2 separate regions of the Homo sapiens genome follow, and region 1 is linked to region 2. The links come from fine-mapping of genetic effects on gene expression. A gene starts in region 2. The other region holds a variant in brackets. All regions are shown on one strand. Distances are from middle to middle.

Evidence for each region.
Region 1: its variant is fine-mapped to the expression of LINC02360 in tibial nerve (GTEx, PIP above 0.99). The same link has a PIP of 0.9 or more in aorta, atrial appendage, esophagus muscle, gastroesophageal junction, lung and thyroid.

The regions. Positions count from the first base shown.
Region 1 is chr4:11,805,422-11,815,315 of GRCh38, forward strand. No RefSeq gene overlaps it. Among named protein-coding and RNA genes, the nearest start is that of MIR12113, 27 kb to the left of the region's middle. RefSeq lists an enhancer at 655-1,284. The variant G/C (reference allele first, on the strand shown) is at 4,283.
Region 2 is chr4:11,764,683-11,774,576 of GRCh38, forward strand. LINC02360 (long intergenic non-protein coding RNA 2360) reads right to left here and starts at 4,786. Exons shown (of 4, transcript NR_146995.1): 1 at 4,621-4,786. It overlaps LOC107986178 (a long non-coding RNA gene), which reads left to right. Exons shown (of 5, transcript NR_188483.1): 3 at 5,627-5,793; 4 at 5,930-6,006; 5 at 7,023-9,193.

The DNA.
Region 1 (9,894 bases), 41 kb after region 2:
AATCACTTGTCTTCTTTTATTTTGCTTTTCTCATCTGTAAATGAGACATCATCATATTTTCTCCCTAAGTTTGTTGTCAAAAAGCCAGTCACATAGCATTTAGGTAGCAATGGTAGATCTTGATTCAACAGTAAAATCTGTCCCCACCCATCTTATAAAAATTTTCTTATTAACCCAAGCCTCTTAATTCCTAATGAATCATGCTAATTTCCTCAAGGTTATCACTGCTGTACTTCAGTTGGCTGATGTTTATGGATGACTAAAGACTTTGCTGATAACTGTGAAAAACTGTAACAATTATCTTTGACCCATAAACTTAAACAAAACTGCATACTTTATTCCATTTAATCAAAATATCTACTTTTTCCAGGTGAATTAATAAGTTTTAAACACCTATGACAATAAGATGCTTTTACAACATTTTGCTTAATGAAATCAATCCTGTAATATTCTCCCATTTCTCTGGTAAATAAAACTCTATTCGTCCTTCCAGTTTGAGCTTAAATATCTTGTTCATGAAATATTTTTCAAGTACCCCAGTAAACTGACTTCCTTATTCACTGCCTGTTGCAATCACATTTAAATTTCTAACACATTGCTCTAAGCTGCCATGCATTATCTGTATTCTCCCCACTAGGTGGCAATTCAATAGCAGGGTGTGTTAGAACTATTTCTATGCTCTCCTTAGCCTCATCTTCCCACACAAACTATGCCTACCACTATGTTTTCCACATATGGGGTGTTTTGTTTGTGGCCTTAGTGCTTGTTGAATTTCATTAATGTCATCTCTCCCTGCTAGACTGTGAGTCCCCTAAAGAACTCACAATGGCAGAAATTATACTTTTATTTATGTGTTAATTTGTGTCAGGCCTCTGAGCCTAAGCTAAGCCTTCATATCCCCTGTGACCTGCATGTACACATCCAGATGGCCGGTTCCTGCCTTAACTGATGACATTCCACCACAAAAGAAGTGAAAATGGCCTGTTCCTGCCTTAACTGATGACATTCCACCACAAAAGAAGTGAAAATGGCCTGTTCCTGCCTTAACTGATGACATTATCTTGTGAAATTCCTTCTCCAGGCTCATCCTGGCTCAAAAGCTCCCCTACTGAGCACCTTGTGACCCCGACTCTGCCCGCCAGAGAGCAAACCCCCTTTGACTGCAATTCTCCTTTATCTACCCAAATCCTATAAAACGGCCCCATCCTTATCTCCCTTCGCTGACTCTCTTTTCGGACTCAGCCTGCCTGCACCCAGGTGATTAAAAGTTTTATTGCTCACACAAAGCCTGTTTGGTAGTCTCTTCACACTGACGCGCATGAAATTTGGTGCCGTGACTCGGATCGGGGGACCTCCCTTGGGAGATCAATCCCCTGTGCTCCTGCTCTTTGCTCCATGAGAAAGATCCACCTACAACCTCAGGTCCTCAGATTGACCAGCCCAAGAAACGTCTCACCAATTTCAAATCCTGTAAGCGGCCTCTTTTTACTCTCTTCTCCAACCTCCCTCACTATCCCTCAACCTCTTTCTCCTTTCAATCTTGGAGCCACACTTCAATCTCTCCCTTCTCTTCATTTCAATTCCTTTCATTTTCTAGTAGAGACAAAGGAGACACGTTTTATCCGTGGACCCAAAACTCCGGCACCGGTCACGGACTGGGAAGGCAGCCTACCCTTGATGTTTAATCATTGCAGGGATGCCTCTCTGATTATTCACCCACATTTCAGAGGTGTCAGACCACGCAGGGACCGCCTGCCTTGGTCATTCACCCTTAGTGGCAAGTCCTGCTTTTCTGGAGGAGGGGCAAGTACCCCAACCCCTTCTCTCCATGTCTCTACCCCTTCTCTGCTTTTCTGAAGGACAGGCAAGAACCCCTCAACCCCTTCTCCTTCACCCTTAGCAGCAAGTCCCGCTTTTCTAGGGGGCAAGAATCCCCAATCCCTTATTTCCATGCCCTGAACTCTTATCTCTGTGCCTCTACCCCTTATTTCCGTGCCCCAACCCCTTTCCTGCTTTTCTGGATGGTAAGAACCCCCGAACCCCTTCCCTCTGTGTCTCTACTCTCTCTTTTCTCTGGGCTTCCCTCCTTCACTATAGGCAACCTTCCACCCTCCATTCCTCCTTCTTCTCCCTTAGCCTGTGCTCTCGAGAACTTAAAACCTCTTCAACTCACACCTGACATAAAATCTAAATGCCTTATTTTCTTCTGCAATGCTGCTTGACACGAATACAAACTTGACAGTGGTTCCAAATAGCCAGAAAACGGCACTTTCAATTTTTCCATCCTGCAAGATCTAAATAACTCTTGTTGTAAAATAGGCAAACAGTCTGAGGTGCCTGACCTCCAGGCATTCTTTTACACATCAGTCCCTCCCTAGTCTCTGTGCCCAGTGCAACTCATCCCATATCTTCCTTCTTTCCCTCCCACCTGTCCCCTCAGTCCCAACCCCAAGTGTCAATGAGTCTTTCTAATCTTCCTTTTCTATAGACTCATCTGACCTCTCCCCTCCTCGCCCGGCCGAGCTAGGTCCCAATTCTTCCTCAGCCTCCGCTCCTCCACCCTATAATCCTTTTATCACCTCCCCTCCTCACACCCAGTCAGGCTTACAGTTTCATTCCGCGACTAGCCCTCCCCCACATGCCCAGCAATTTGCTCTTAAAAAGGTGGCTGGAGCTAAAGGCATAGTCAAAGTTAATGCTCCTTTTTCTTTATCCCAAATCAGATAGCGTTCAGCCTCTTTTTCATCAAATATAAAAATCCAGCCCAGTTCATGGCTCATTTGGCAGCAACCCTGAGATGCTTTACAGCCCTAGACCCTAAAAGGTCAAAAGGCCGTCTTATTCTCAATATACATTATATTACCCAATCTGCTCTCGACATTAAATAAAACTCCAAAAATTAAATTCCAGCCCTCAAACCCCACAACAGGACTTAATTAACCTCGCCTTCAAGGTGTACAATAATAGAGTAGAGGCAGCCAAGTAACAGTGTATTTCTGAGTTGCAATTCCTTGCCTCCACTGTGAGACAAACCCCAGCCACATCTCCAGCACACAAGAACTTCCAAACACCTGAACCGCAGCAGCCAGGCGTCCCTCCAGAGCCGCCTCCCCCAGGAGCTTGCTACAAGTGCCAGAAATCTGGCCACCAGGCCAAGGAATGCCTGCAGCCCAGGATTCCTCCTAAGCCTCCTCTCGTCTGTGCAGGACCCCACTGAAAATCACACTGTTCAACTCACCTGGCAGCCATTCCCAGAGCCCCTGGAACTCTGGCCCGAGGCTCTTTGACTGACTCCTTCCCAGATCATCTCAGCTTAGCAGCTGAAGACTGATGCTGCCCCATCGCTTCGGAAGCCCCGTAGACCATCAAGGATGCCGAGCTTTAAGTAACTCTCACAGTGGAGGGTAAGTCCATCCCCTTCTTAATCAATACGGAGGCTGCCCACTCCACATTACCTTCTTTTCAAGGACCTGTTTCCCTTGCCTCCATAACTGTTGTTAAGTATTGACGGCCAAGCTTCTAAACCTCTTAAAGCTCCCCAACTCTGGTGCCAACTTAGACAATACTCTTCTAAGCACTCCTTTTTAGTTATCCCTACCTGCCCAGTTCCCTTATTAGGCTGAGACACTTTAACTAAATTATGTGCTTCCCTGACTATTCCTGGGCTACAGCCGCACTGCATTGCCACCTTTTCCCCCAGTTCAAAGCCTCCTTCACATCCTCCCCTTGTATCTCCCCACCTTAACCCACAAGTATAAGATATCTCTACTCCCTCCTTAGCAACCGATCTTGCACCCCTTACCATCCCATTAAAACCTAATCACTCTTACCCCACTCAATGCCAATATCCTATCCTACAGCATGCTTTAAAAGGATTAAAGCCTGTTATCACTCACCTGCTACAGCACAGGCTTCTAAAACCTATAAACTCTCCTTACAATTCCCCCATTTTACTTGTCCTAAAACCAGACAAGACTTACAGGTTAGTTCAGGATCTGCGCTTTATCAATCAAATTGTTTTGCCTATCCACCCCACGGTGTCAAACCCATATACTCTCCTATCCTCAATACCTCCTTCTACAACCCATTATTCCATTCTAGATCTCAAACATGCTTTCTTTACTATTCCTTTGCACCCTTCATCCCAGCCTCTCTTTGCTTTCACTTGGACTGACCCTGACACCCATTAAGCTCAGCAAATTACCTGGGCTATAAAGCCGCAAAGCTTCACAGACAGCCCCCGTTACTTCAGTCAAGCCCAAATTTCATCCTCATCTGTTAC[G/C]TATCTTGGCATAATTCTCATAAAAGCACACGTGCTCTCCCTGCTGATTGTGTCCAATTAATCTCCCAAACCTGAATCCCTTACAAAACAATGACTCCTTTCCTTCCTAGGCATGGTTAGCGTGGTCAGAATTCTTACACAAGAGCCAGGACTGCACCCTGTAGCCTTTCTGTCCAAACAACTTGACCTCACTGTTTTAGCCTAGCCCTCATGTCTGTGTGCAGCAGCTGCCGCTGTTTTAATACTTTTAGAGGCCCTAAAAATCACAAGCTATGCTCAACTCACTCTCTACATTTCTCATAACTTCCAAAATCTATTTTCTTCCTCATACCTGATGCATATACTTTCTGCTCCCTGGCTCTTTCAGCTGTACTCACTCTTTGTTGAGTCTCCCACAATTACCATTGTTCTTGGCCTGGACTTCAATCCAGCCTCCCACATTATTCCTGATACCACACCTGACCCCCATGACTGTATCTCTCTGATCCATCTGACATTCACCCCATTTACCCATATTTCCTTCTTTCCTGTTCCTCACCCTGATCACGCTTAATTTATTGATGGCAGTTCCACTAGGCCTAATTGCCACACACCATCAAAGGCAGGCTATGCTATAGTACAAGCCACTAGCCCGCCTCTTAGAACCTCTCATCTCCTTTTCATTGTGGAAATCTATCCTCAAGGAAATAACTTCTCAGTGTTCCATCTGCTATTCTACTACTCCTCAGGGATTATTCAGGCCCTCTCCCTTCCCTACACATCAAGCTCGAGGATTTGCCCTGACCCAGGACTGGCAAATTAGCTTTACTCAACATGCCATGAGTCAGATAACTAAAATACCTCTTATTCTAAGTAGACACTTTCACTGGATAGGTAGAGGCCTTTCCTACAGGGTCTGAGAAGGCCACCGCAGTCATTTCTTCCCTTCTGTCAGACATAATTCCTCAATTTAGCCTTCCCACCTCTATACAGTCTAATAACAGACCAGCCTTTATTAGTCAAATCAGCCAAGCAGTTTTTCAGGCTCTTAGTATTCAGTGGAACCTTTATATCCCTTACAGTCCTCAGTCTTCAGGAAAGGTAGAACAGACTAATAGTCTTTTAAAAACACACCTCACGAAGCTCAGTCACCGACTTAAAAAGGACTGGACAATACTTTTACCACTTTCGCTTCTCAGAATTCAGGCCTGTCCTCAGAATGCTACAAGGTACAGCCCATTTAAGCTCCTGTATAGACGCTCCTTTTTATTAGGCCCTAGTCTCATTCCAGACACCAGACCAACTTAGACTGTGCCCCCCCAAAATCTTGTCATCCCTACTATCTTCTGTCTAGTCATACTCCTATTCACTGTTCTCAACTACTCATACATGCCCTGATCTTGTTTACACTGCCGGTTTATACTGTTTCTCCAAGCCTTCACAGCTGATATCTCCTGGTGCTATCCCCAAACTGCTGCTCTAAACTCTTGAAGTAAATAAATAATCTTTGCTGGCAGGACTATGCTGAATCTCCTTAGGCACTCTCTAATCAGATGTCCTAGGTCCTCCCAATTCTTAGACCTTTTATACCTGTTTTTCTCCTTCTCTTATTCCATTTAGTTTTTCAATTCATACAAAACCATATCCAGGCCATCACCAATAATTCTACACAACAAATGTTTCTTCTAACAACCCCACAGTATCACCCCTTACCACAAAATCTTCCTTCAGCTTAATCTCTCCCACTCTAGGTTCCCATGCCGCCCCTCATCCCACTCGAAGCAGCCCTGAGAAACATCGCCCATTATCTCTCCATACCACCCCCAAAAATTTTCACCGTCCCAACACTTTACCACTATTTCATTTTATTTTTCTTATTAATATAAGAAGACAGGAATATCAGGCCTCTGAGCCCAAGCTAAGCCATCATAACCCCTGTGACCTGCATGTGCGCAACCAGATGGCCTGTTCCTGCCTTAACTGATGACATTGTCTTGTGAAATTCCTTCTCCTGGCTTATCCTGGCTCAAAAGCTCCCCTACTGAGCACCTTGTGATTCCCCACTCTGCCCGCCAGAGAGCAACCCCCCTTTGATTGTAATTTTCCTTTATCTACCCAAATCCTATAAAATGGCCCCACCCTTATCTCCATTTGCTGACTCTCTTTTCGGACTCAGCCTGCCTGCCCCCAGGTGATTAAAAGCTTTATTGCTCACACAAAGCCTATTTGGTAGTCTCTTCATAGGGATGTGCATGAAATTTGTTTGTGTGTTTGTTTTTGTTTATTCATTAATAATCCATCAATCTATATCAAGGACATATAAGGAGATAGAAAAGAGAGAGGAGAGTGAAGAAGAGGAGACTAGAAGCAACAAGAAGCACTTGCACTGGAAATAATCCCTCTTCTGCAACAGGCATAGCATTGAGGTATCGAGGACTAAATAAAGGGATCTGTTTTGATCTTCAGTAGGAATGAGATTGGAAACACTGACTTTCTAAATGTGAAGCTATAGTGGGAGAATTAACAGAAGAACCAACATTTGAGGAACAAGTCAAATAATCAGGGCTGACTTTCACAATGACTGGAGAAGCAAACCTGTCATAAGAAGGGCAAACACACAAAACCAAGCTAGAATCTCAAAAAGCCAGGGACAAGTGAATATTCTGAACAGGTCATGGCACAGGGCCTGTGACAACCCTGAGCTAGTCTAAACAGCCTTGCACTTATTATCACTCGTGAAGCCTAGGACAGGACACCTTAAATTAGGTGGTACTAGGTGGGAAATAACAGTGATATTGACAAGACAGAATGTCAAGATCTAAGTGAATAGGAAGTATATGGAGTAGTGGTTACAGTGATTAGGGTTGGAGATATGACAGAATACAAAACATTCAAGGAGAATTAAGAGATAAGGACATAACAGAAGCACAAAAGAATTCATGTGAGTTAAGTAGGGAGGCATTCTAGTCCTAAAAGGAAAACAGAAAGAAACTCCAAAGCTACTGGTTATATTTAAAAATTATTTAACAGCTTGGTGAGTGAGCTTGTTCTAATTTAGCTTCTACTCCAGACCACCTTCGGTGGAGGGCGGTGGGCAGCATAATGCCATATACCTACGTCATAGCCACTAGAAGATTATAATAAACTTAACCTTCAAACAACTGATAATTAACTTTGAAGTGATGTACCAAAGGCAATATATGTTTCACAGACTGAGAAAGAGTGGCTAAGTACGTATGCCTCCTGTATCAAGATGAAGTAACTACCCTTCTCATCAGATCTGGAGAGGTCTCCAAGCTGTATCTGCCACCTTCTAGAGGGATCTAAAATAAAATTAGCATTCTAAACCAAAGTAGGAGAGTCAAGGACAGTTAAGAAGCCAAACAATTCACAGGACCCAAATGTTAGGTTGTGCTGTTCTGAATTCTCTTCAAGGACGAATGAGGGCTTGTATAGAAACTAGATGGCCCTGAGGTGAAGTTTATCCACACCCTCAGATGCAGGTGACTGGAAAACAGAAGCTGAAAGATGGAAATGTGGCCATGTCCCCTCAGTGTTTTTGAGATAAATGTATTTTATCATCTAACTCATTTAACTCATTTATTTCATAGAATACTCATCTAACTCATTTATTTCATAGAATACTCATTAAAAGCAGAGAAAACAGGAATGGTCCTGGGCCAGAAGATTTACTATCTTGAACACATTCAGTTTGCTAATTAAATACGCATCCATCACCCAAATCTATGAAGATTCTACTTGGCAAGGCCATTAAAATATGCAAATAATTATTCATCCAGACTTAAAATGTTTACCCCATCTTAGCTTCAGCAGTAGAACCCTCTAAAAAGACAGATCTAAGACACCCTTCCATCCTTTTTCTCTATTTTTATACTCCAACAAATGAAGAAAGTGTTCTGAAACATAACTCATTGTTTTTGTAAAGACGACTGAAATACAAACCTTGGTTTTTCTACAGGTTCTATGAAAAGCTTGACTATATCTTTTCTTTTATTTTTTTCTTTTCAGCTTGATGAACACCTGTTTTCGAAGTCCTGAATCTGTAGTCATAAGATTCAGCCCTGTTTCCTTCCAAATCTTGACTTCATATTCAAACTAGAGAATAAAAATTTAAAAACAGGCCCTTGTGCCTAGGATGTAGAAAAATTACTAATTGTTTTCCTATGTCCCACGTAAAATACCAAACAGTTTTTAACCATTATGAAAATGTATCGTAAGACAGCTTCAAAATAAAGTATTTTCATGTAAGTTTAAATATTATGGCTATTTTTCTTCTTTAGAATAGTCTTATGTTACAAAGAAACCTTTTGGTGCTGTAAGAATGCAAGGGAAACATAAAACTAAGAGGAAAAATACAAGCAATTTTTTCCACTGCACTCAGTTTAAATAACAAATCAGCTGCAGAATAAGAGCAGCTTGTTATAACCCTCCTATTGTTATATGTGCTGCTGTAAAATCCTTCTTACATAATTCAAAACACATGACACATAATTGACAGACAGATATAAAACATATTAATAACAACGGTATCACTAACAGTAACAGGAAATATGGAAATCCCTCTCTCAAGCTTGACAAGGCACTTCTCTGCTTAGTGTTTAGAGACTCCCTTGGAAATACCTGCAAAGATTTTGAGGAAAACAAGCTTCACATAATAAAGTAGTAGGTGGTAGGTAATCTAATAAAGTGTGAAGGTTCATACAGCTACTTGGGAGGCTGAGGCAGAAGAATTGCTATAACCTGGGATGCGGAGGTTGCAGTGAGCCGAGGTCGGGCCACTGCATTCCAGCCTGGCAACAGAGGGAGACTGTCTCAAAAAAAAAAAAAAAAAAAAAAAAGATCCTGTAGGAAACTTAGTATATTGAAAGACAGATACTCAAATACGTGTACATAAAATGTTCATAGCAGCACTACCTACAATATCTAAAAAGTGGAAACTGCCCAAATGTTCATCAACAAATAAATGGGTGAACAAAATGTGATAAGTACAAACAATGGAATATTATTAAGCCATTAAAGGATATGAGGTATGGAAACATGCTATACATGGATATACCTTAGGCACATTATGCTAAGTGGAAAAGCCAAACACAAAAAGCCACAGATTGTATGATTTCATTTGTATGATTTCCAGAATACGAAAATCCACAGAGAGAGAGAGAGAGCAGATGGGTGGTTGCCAGGGGCTAGAAGTGGGGGTGAGGAATGGCATGTGACTGCTTAATGGGTATAAGTTTTTCTTTTGGAGTGAAGAAAATGTTTTGCAAGCTGACAGAGGTGGTGGTTGCACAATATTGTGGATGTGCTGAATGCTGATGAGTTATATACCCTGGTGTTTTATTGCACAGCCCAGTAATGATAATTAATAGCAGTGTTTGAATTTTTCGAAATAGCTAAAAGAGAGAATTTTAAAGGTTCTCAACAAACAGAAATAATAACTTTTTGAGGTCATGAGTATGCTAATTAGCCAATTTGATCATTTTGCAATATATACATGTACTGAAACATGATATCCATAAATTTATACAATTATTATCAAAAATATTCTGAACTTCTTCCCCCCAAGTTAGTAATAAATAAAAAGCAAATAATAAAATACAATGGTTAATTTT
Region 2 (9,894 bases):
ATGTATGGCTTACAAATAAATTTTTTTTTCTATTGTATAGATTGCTTCTTAACTCTATTGTTTACTTTGCTGTGCAGAAGCTTTTTAGTTTAGTTTGATGAATTTCCATTTGTCTATTTTTGTTTTTTGTTGGCTGAGCTTTTGGGGTCAATTCCAAAAAAGCATTGCCCAGACCAATGTCATATAGTTTTTTCCCTATTGTTTTTTCAGTAGTTTTATAATTTAAGGTCTTATGTTTGTCTTTAATCCATTTTAAGTAGATTTTTGTGTATGTGAAGGGCCCAATTCCATTCTCTTGTATGGGGGTACCTAGTTTTTCCAAAACAATTTGTTGAAAATGTTCTCCTTTCACTATTTTGTGTTTTTGGCATCCTTATTGGTGATCAATTGACTGTATGTATAATGTATAAATTTATTTCTGGGCTTGAAAGACTCAATGATCGTGTTTAACTATCAGATTTAAAGCATGCATACCAAAATATTTTATATATTTTTTCACTCTTCTAAGTTATATATAGGTACCATATATTATATATAAGATAAAAGTAAATCAAAATAGAAATAAGAATAAAATAACAAATATACAAATGTTATAAATATGGAATATATTCTAAACTCATAAATATCTTCTTTTGCACTCTGAATAACAAATTGTAGGCCAGTCCTTGTAGCTAAATTCTTATTTTGAAACATTTAAAGCCATCTTTACACATTTTTTTCTTTCCCTATGTTTTTCAAGATTAATCTTCTGAAGTGGGAAAACTAGAATTATATCAGGGACTCCCCAGGGTAAAATTTGATTCTCAAATCTTTATTCTTTTTCCCCTGAAATATAAAACATGACATTATATACAAAAGGAGTCTTGCTTTCAAATCAGGATTTTTGCATTAGACTATTTAATATATCCAACATTTATTCTGCTTATTGAAACTACATGTATATGATATACCTAGGTAAATATTACAGAAGGGACTTCTTATTTTCTCTTTACAGTCAAGTGTAATATGATTAGACACAAAGTTGATATTTCTCCAGCTAGATTACTTGATGTCAGGTATTTTGAGGTCTCATGTTTCAGGTAGGGGAAAAAAATATGAAGAAACCAGGTTTTGCCGAAGGTCACCCTTAGAATCAGCGATAAAATCAAGATGTATGAGTTACTAGTCTGTATTTTACCAGAATTTGTTTTAGATAATTTCATCAAAACACTATCTAATCTATCTGAAGATAGTAAATTTCAAGAAGTAAATTAATGTATTAATGACTGTTCTGAAAATATATGTATTTTTTAACTTGTAAAATGTGTTAGAGAAAAAAATGAGACACTTAAGAGATCCTCCCAGGTATCCTCCGAGTGGGGATAAAACGTCCACTAGAGGGCATTTCTCCCTGGACGCTCTGTTGTCAAGGCTGTAAGCTCATTCCCCAAAATGCTATGAACTCATTTTATCAAATTGGGAGTAACTAACTAACTAAAAAAATTGAATGTGAAGTATTCTGATGCTTCCAGATTCACACAAATAAGATCAGAACCACCTTTCCATTTCAAAATTGACAGAATTTGAGAGGCTATCCATTTCTGATAACTCTCCTAGTGTCAAGCATGTTGCATGTGTACTTTTTTTTAACCACTAAAACAAATTTGAAAGTAAAATGTTATTATACAAATTTAGGGAGAGATGAGAAAACTAGAGTCAACTAATCTATGTGTATTGTGCTCTTATTGTCATGATTTCTATGTGGTTTCATGCCCAATGACGTCTTTGTATAAAAAATATACAGATAGATATAACTATGCTTATTTTTCTTATGTGTGTTATGCGCTGTTTAGTTGTATATGTTTCAGCTGTATGTTCTAATATCCATATACATACTGAAATGATTACCACAGTGAATCATGCTAACGTATCCATCTGTTTACATAGTTACTCTTCTCTTTTTGTGTGTATGTGTGATATAAGTGTCTGAAATCTACTGTTAGTAAATTTCTAACATGCAATACAATATTATTAACTATAATTCTTCTGCTATGCTTTAGACCTCTAGACTTATTCACCCTACATAAGTGCAAGTTTGTATCCTCAGACCTACCACTCCTCATTTCCCCTGCTCCCCATCCGTGGCTGGTAACCACCATTCTACTATCTGCCTGTATGAATTTGATTTTGTTATATTCCACTTGTAAGTGAGATCATACAGCACTTATTCTGTGACTATATTATTTCAGTTAGCTTGATTCCCTCAAGGTTCATCATGTGGTCACATATTCTATAATGTTCGGCTTTTATATGGCAGAATAACATTCCATTCCATGGCCGTTGCATAGTTTTCGGTAATTGTCTAGCCATCTTAGGTATTCCTGGTTGTTTAGAAGCATCATTCTTATTTCTGCCTTTATCTTCATATGGTGTTCTGTGTGTATGTGTGTACCTTCATGTCCAAATTTCCTTTTTACATGAGAATACCAGTCACAGTAGATTAGGGTCCCATTGTACTCTAGAATGGCCTCTTCTTAACCTACCTAATTATATCTTCAGTGACCTTACTTCCTAATTAAGGCACATTTTGAAGTATTAGGGGCCTTCAACATAGGGCTTTCTAGGGAAACATTTCAACCTACAATAGTCACTTTATGTTTTACTCTATGATTGGCACTAGACTGGGTCCTCCAATAAATAGATGAGCCATTCTTGCTCCTTGCTCTTTAGAATACTACGTGGAGTCCAAGAAGAACAGAGAGTGATTAATTGGGAAGATGTTGCTTCAGACAAAAAAAAAAAAAAAAAAAAAGGAAAAATGGCTTTAGATTGGAGAGTGACCTAATTTAAAACCGGTTCTGAGAAAAAACTTCATGTGACCTTGAACAATTTATTTTACCATTTTTTTGTTTCTTCACATAGAAGATAAAATAGAAGATAAAATTATTGAATTGGATCTGTCACTGCCCAGCAATAATGCACATTAGACATGGATTTTGTAGAAACACTATAGTAGATGATGCCTAAACCATCTTTCAATTCTAAGAGGTTGTCACATGCATCTGGAAGAGCCTGAGAATGCTTTTGAGTTATACGTTGAGCTTGACACCAAATACTGACCAACTTGGTAACATCCCCTCTTTCCTTACCTCCATTCCTTTTCAATACATATGTTTCTATGATATATTGTATGTTTTTATGATATAATTGCTAGGCCTCAAAATTTTGAATCCTACTCTAAGACATGTGAGGTGTGACTGATGCTTAGAAAATTATGCTGATAAATTATAAAAACATCATAAAACCAGGATTTATTATTGTTTTTTATTCTAGGACTATTTCATTCTAAAATTATTGTTCTTTCCTCTACTATATGATCAAGTCTCTATAGCTTTTGAAAAATTCAACCTCTCTAAATATTTTTCAATTGGATTTGGAGTGTTTTAAATGTTACTTGAGCTTCATTTTTAATTTTTTAATTTTTAAAAATGTTTTCTAACGGGCATGAAGCATAATAAGATTTTTATATTCTTTATTCCTTCCTTGTGCAGCTAGGACAGGACAGTTTTCTATATTTTTGGGAGAAAGAACAATTAGATAGATTGTCATCATAAACTCTTGTTGTCAAAGGACAGTTTAATTCCATTGTCAAGTGCTGATGTCTTTGGTGCTAACTGCTGAGCGTTAAGAAGTTCTGTTCTCACTGCCAGAGGCTTACTCATGTTAAATTCTTGTCAGCCTCCCTAATCATAAGCTGCTTAAATGAGGAAAAAAAACAGTAACAGTGCTTCCAAATCTGAACGAAGTATGCTATATAAAGTTGGTGGACATGGTAACAAGACTTGCCAAAGAAATATTCTAGCCAGCAGTGATACGGCATCCTGAGTAACGAGCTTAAGCAATTGCCTAGACCTTGGTGTGTCATCCTAAAAGTAAAATGGAAACATATACCTAAAGAAACAAAGAAATAACAACATTTAAATTATTGAAACGAGCAATAGATAAAGTGATATATTTGGATCTTCTACCCTGAAATAAGCCCCTCTCTGCCCTGGTGTCATTTCAGGCCAACGAGCTATACCTAGTGATTCCAAAGTCCACATATATTTACTCTGTTCTCACTGTACAAAGTAACCACTCTGAAGTCAAGTAAGTCATTGTCGATAGATAGTACTAATTACATTAGGTTTTATATATGTGTGTCTGAACATACTATATAACAAACATATACAGTACACAATTTTGCCTTTTATATACTTGCATGTGTGCATATATATGTACATATGCAATCATGCATAGTTAATGGCACATGTATACACTTGTGAAATAGAATACCTACCAATTGCTAATGAAGGGATTTCTCTGATACCAATTCAACTTGTATGGGGAAAGCTACTTACCTGCTTTATTTCTCAATTTTCTCATCTATGACACAACGTAAGCAGGTGCACGTTATGTGTGTTGTCTCCTAGCTCTTAAATCAGAAATCAATTTTATAACATGAATTGCACTTATCCAATAGGAGAAACACTTTCTAGCTTCAGAGTATAATTGGTATAGTTTTACATTGCAAGTAACAGAAGCCCCATGGAGCCAAATTGATCAAAATACGGTATTTCAGAAGGATGAGGTGGATCTTACCTCAGGCATAGATGCGTACATAGATTCCAATGAAAATAATGTGGCACTGTCTTCTTGTAGCTCTGCCTTTTCTTCTGTGCTGGGCTCTTATTTACCTGCTACAGGCTGATATTCTCCGTATGGTTGAGTATACGTCCAAGCACTGCGAAGCTTCACCTCTACCTGGCCTCCAACACACCAAAGAGGCTTTTAGAACTGCCGTTAGAACAGTCCTGGGAGAGCTTGGATTTCTGAGTTGAGACAAGTGTAAACCCTTAAAGCAATCAGTCAAGCTGTGTGAACAATTTTCCATGATACTCTGGACTAGGATGACCCATCCAAGAATTGGCAGGAAACCAGCTGGACCAGCCATCCTTACACAGATTTATTTCCCCATATTTCAAGGAAGTGAGCCATTTTGCTTGATCCAGCACATACTTATCTACAGTGCTTAAAACTAAGAACTCAGATACAGTGTCTTAAAGGCTTATTTCCTCTTACTCTTCAACATGAGCCTCTGCTTACCATTGTCAATCACTATGAATTTTCTTGTGTTTCATATTTTCTTGACTCTGGCTTATCTTGATAATTTCCTCCTCTTCCTAAAGCCCTTAGCATGCCTATCTTGTATACTTTGCCACCCACAACTCCAGATTTTCTCTACAAAACGTTGAAACAAATAAATACACATAGAAACAAAACAAAAATAATAACTTAGCACACCTCTCTAGTAAATATTGTTTTCCTCAATGCTGGTGTCGAGAAATATTTTCTAAACTCCCACAGTGCCCTAGATTTTTCTCTGTTATTGCACTTACTACAAGATACAGTGCTTTTTCTTTCCTACTACCAGACTCTTGCATAAATAAGGCATGTTTTGATTTAAAGAGACATAAACACAAATTGAAATATTTAAAAAGAAAAAAAACTGGAAGGATCCCAGTACTTCCATAACTACCAGAGAGTTGTCTTCATATTTCTTGTATTTGCTGACTTTGAATGTCCATTTTATGCTCTCCTTTTCCAGAAAAGCTGGGATACATGAAGACTGCCATCCCTTGAGTCACTTGCCCTGTAGCTGCCACTGTTGGAAAAGGGCTTGCTTCTGTGTCCTTGTGCCCACTTTGAAAATCCCTGGGAAGTCCTTGGAGTCAGATGAGCAGGCCTCCGCCACTCTGCCAAAAAGTCTGTTCAGTGAGTTTAGAATCATATAGAAAAGACATGGATGTGGGGGATCCTGTGCCATGTATTTGAAACAGTAGCTGCCATATAATATGCTTTCGGTATATGAATGAATTCAAAAGGATATTATCATGCTCATACCTTCTAGATCAGGAGTCCCCAACCCCTGAGCCATGGACTGATATGGAGCTATGGTCTGTTAGGAACTGGGCTGCCCAGGAGGAGGTAAGTGGCAGGCAGGCAGAGCATTACCACCTGAGCTCCGCCTCCCATCACATCAATGGCAGCAGGGCACTAGATTCTCATAGGAGTGTGAACCCCACTGTGCATGTGAGGGATAGAAGCTGCACACTCCTTATGAGAATCTAATGTCTGACGAGCTGAGGTGGAACAGTTTAATCCCAAAACCATCCTCCTGCACCCACAAGTCTGTGGAAAGATTGTCTTCCATGAAACTGGTCCCTGGTGCCAAAAAGATTGGGGTCCACTGTTCTAGAACTTAAACGGTGAAAAAGTTTCAATTGTAGACTCATATAAGTTGCCAGTTGGTGTAAAGCACTGGCTTTTCTCCCTTTTGGAGAATGCTTAGGAATAATTGACTTTTTCAGATTTCAGTTTTCTGCACTTTTCATCTGTGTAAAAGGGTATTTATGATAAGGATATGTGCGCTAAAGGCCCAGATTCCAGATTAATAGCACAAAGCTTTCTTGTGAGTTAATACTATAATTATACTTTTTTCCCTTAAGGCTGTATTTTTTTTCTGATTTTCTGATATTTTTCTCCATAGCCAAAATGGTGTTTAAGAAATTAAAGGCCAGCTTGAATGTGGAAGCTCAACTATAACTACAGGGCAAAAAACTAAATCTTGTCATAATATTCATGAGTGGTTATTAATAATGAGGACTTGCAACACTTTTATCTTGGCCATGGAATTAAAATATACAGATTACTTTCCATTAACATTAAGATACCATGAATAAAAGACCAAGTTTGTAATAATTAGAGTAGGTTTCAGAATTTTGCCCTGCACTCAACTCGTTACTTTTTTTAATTTTATTTTTAATTGTTGCAACCTCTGTGCCTCCATTTCTAATTTATTTATACAACGACGATTTTAATGCTTTTCTGACAAAAAAGTCAAAGGGGTAATGTGAAAGCAAATACATTTTCTTGTTTTAATGCATAGATAAACATAGTGCCAGTTCTCCTGTGTTAACTTTTTTTTTTTCCCCATCTTCAAGCAATGGTGCTTCTACAATTTCCTTATAGGAGGAGTGAAGAGTAAGCATTTGGATTGGACCAGGATTTGGAGAACTTGTCATGTTGCTCTACGTGCATATGAAATACATCATTGTAACTTAGAATGTGAATTACAGAACAAACATGAAAGTTAGAAAAATATTCTAAACATATTTTTATGATCTCTACTTGCAATAAGGAAACTGTTAGGCTTTTCCATCAAAGAATAAGTGCAACAAAAACAAAAATTTCTGGATGGAAAAAAGGAGATTTGAGGGGCAAGGCTAAAGCCCCCCAAACCTTCCTCAGGATGAACACAAACCCCATCTTTATTTTCCTGTTGCCACTGTTCCATGTTGCTGGGCTCTATTCCAGCAAAATTTTGGAAAGCGTTGCTACAGTTCTGCTCATTTCTTTCTCACTTCAGAACAATGATGCCCTTTCCAGATAAAGCATCTTAATTAAACAGATGACATTTGAACTAGACCTTGAAGAACAGGTCAGAGTTATATTGGGAAAGAAGTAGGAGAGGAACACCCAGAAAATAACATTTATGAACATAAAGGCACAGAATATAAATGTCTCTGACAAAGACAGAAATCAAGGGTAAATTTTAGTGTGGCATAGATTAATTCACTAACTCAATATATATATATTTACATAGAGAGCATGGATAGATACTAGAAATAAAACAATGGATTAGACATGGGCAACCTCATGATGTTTAGCAAATATTGTGTTCTTTAAGGCAGCAGTTCCCAACCTTTTTGGTACTAGGGACCGGTTACGTGGAAGACAATTTTTCCACAGACTGGGATGGGGGGACTGTTTTCAAGACAATTCAAGCACGTTACATTTATGGTGCACTTTATTTCTATTATTACTGCATTGTAATACATAATGAAATAAGTACACAACTCACCATAATGTGGCATCATTGGAAGCCCTGAGCGTGCTTTCCTGCAACTAGACAGTTCCCTCTGGGGCCAATGGGAAACAATGACAGATCATCAGGCATTAGATTCTCATGAGGAGCCCGCAACCTACATCCCTCACATGCACAGTCCACAATAGGATTCATGCGCCTATGAGAATCTAGTGTCATGGCTGGCAGATATAACAGAAGATGGAGTTCAGGCGATAATGTGAGTAAGAGGGAGCGGCCAGAAATACAGATGAAACTTCACTCACTCACTTGCCACTCACCTCCTGGTCTGCGTCCTGGTTCCTAACGGGCCATGGATAGTTACAAGTCTGTGGCCCAGGGGGTTGAAGACCCCTGCCCTAGAGTACATATGCAGTGGATGTTGAGAAACAGATTAATTCATTAATGCAGAGTCTTCATATTCCAAACAAAAGATTTGAGGGTTTTATCTGTTATAACAACACTTGTGTTTCACTAATTATGTCAGGCACGACTCTAATAACTTCAAATTTATTCACTCACCTATTATTAGAACAACATTATGATATAGGAATACACTTGATATGTCCATTATACTGATGAGGAGATTCAGACATAGAGTAGTTATTTAACTTGGGTAAGGTCTTCAGAGCTAATAAGAGGAAGAACCAGGACTTGAGCATGGGTAGGGTGGCTTCAGAGTGGTAGTCTGGCTGTTTGTTTGTAATCACCAAAATGAAGCTACAGTGATGTTTCAGTTTACATAACAGAGTCCTGAGGCTTAAAGATGCCAGGAAATTAATTTAAAGATATTGTAGTACGTATCCCTGTCCAGACTAGAACTCCAGTCCAGGAGAACGCCAGTGCTCCTTCTGTTTCACATAGAGAACACATCAGTACTGTGACACACAGAAAGGTTTTAGTGGGATGCTTGGTTAAGAGAAATACGTTTACAACAAAAGAGGTGATACTGTTGCTTGTCTTAGAAAAATATGGGAGACCTCAATCAGCTGAAGTTCAACATGTTCAAAGGTGGACAAAGTTTCTCGTTGCTCTAAGTAAGTTTAAAATTGAGCCAAAAAGGTCTTGATTGATAAGGGTGGCTGATACATTTTTGAATGTTTTCACTGGCATGATTCACAAAATTGTATAAATTGTATAGTCCCAGGCTATCCCACCATTAACTGCCTCATGGGGACTGTCTCTAACTTCCCCAGGACTTGATCCATAGGGAAATGCTTGCAAGAATAAAAAGCATTAATGAATTCAGGATTCGTTTCTCACTAAACAGCAGTTTGGGGTGATGTCACACACACACACACACACACACACACACAAAAATGGAACAAGCCAGCCCCATTTTCAGCATTGCCTCATTTAAGCTTGGCACACAAAGACAATTGATGCTGACTCAGAGTTATTTCAAGATGGAAAGAGTGTCCTGAATTATCACACCCCACGTAATCCTAGCCACCCTGTATTCCTTCTCCTTACTGTCCCATAGGTGGGTACATCCATCCCAGATAACAAGGTTTGACTCATTTAAGGCCCTTTTCCTTCTGCACAAGATCCTGAAATTTTCCCTACCGTGTGTGTTTGATGGTGCAGAAGAAATAATTCTCAAAAATAAACTAGTTTATCATTAGATGGAAGCAAGGTATCACCTTTATTAATGAGAAAGCAGAGTTTGAAGGACATAGTGCATTCCTCATGCAGCTAGACCCTCTGCTATTGGCTCCTGCCTTTAAATTAGAAAGCCTTACTTTTCCATCTGCAGGTATTGCTATCCCTTTACAAGCCTCTGCTCCCACGGAAAGAAAATTGTGCAACATACGACAAAAAGCAATAGAGGCTTCAGACTCTCCAAAAAGAAAAAGAAATTATGTCAAGAATGTAGTTTATTATTTCCCAATTGACTCTAAGATTAAATTGACTCTAAGATTAGTCAGTAACTTTTCCATGATGTAATG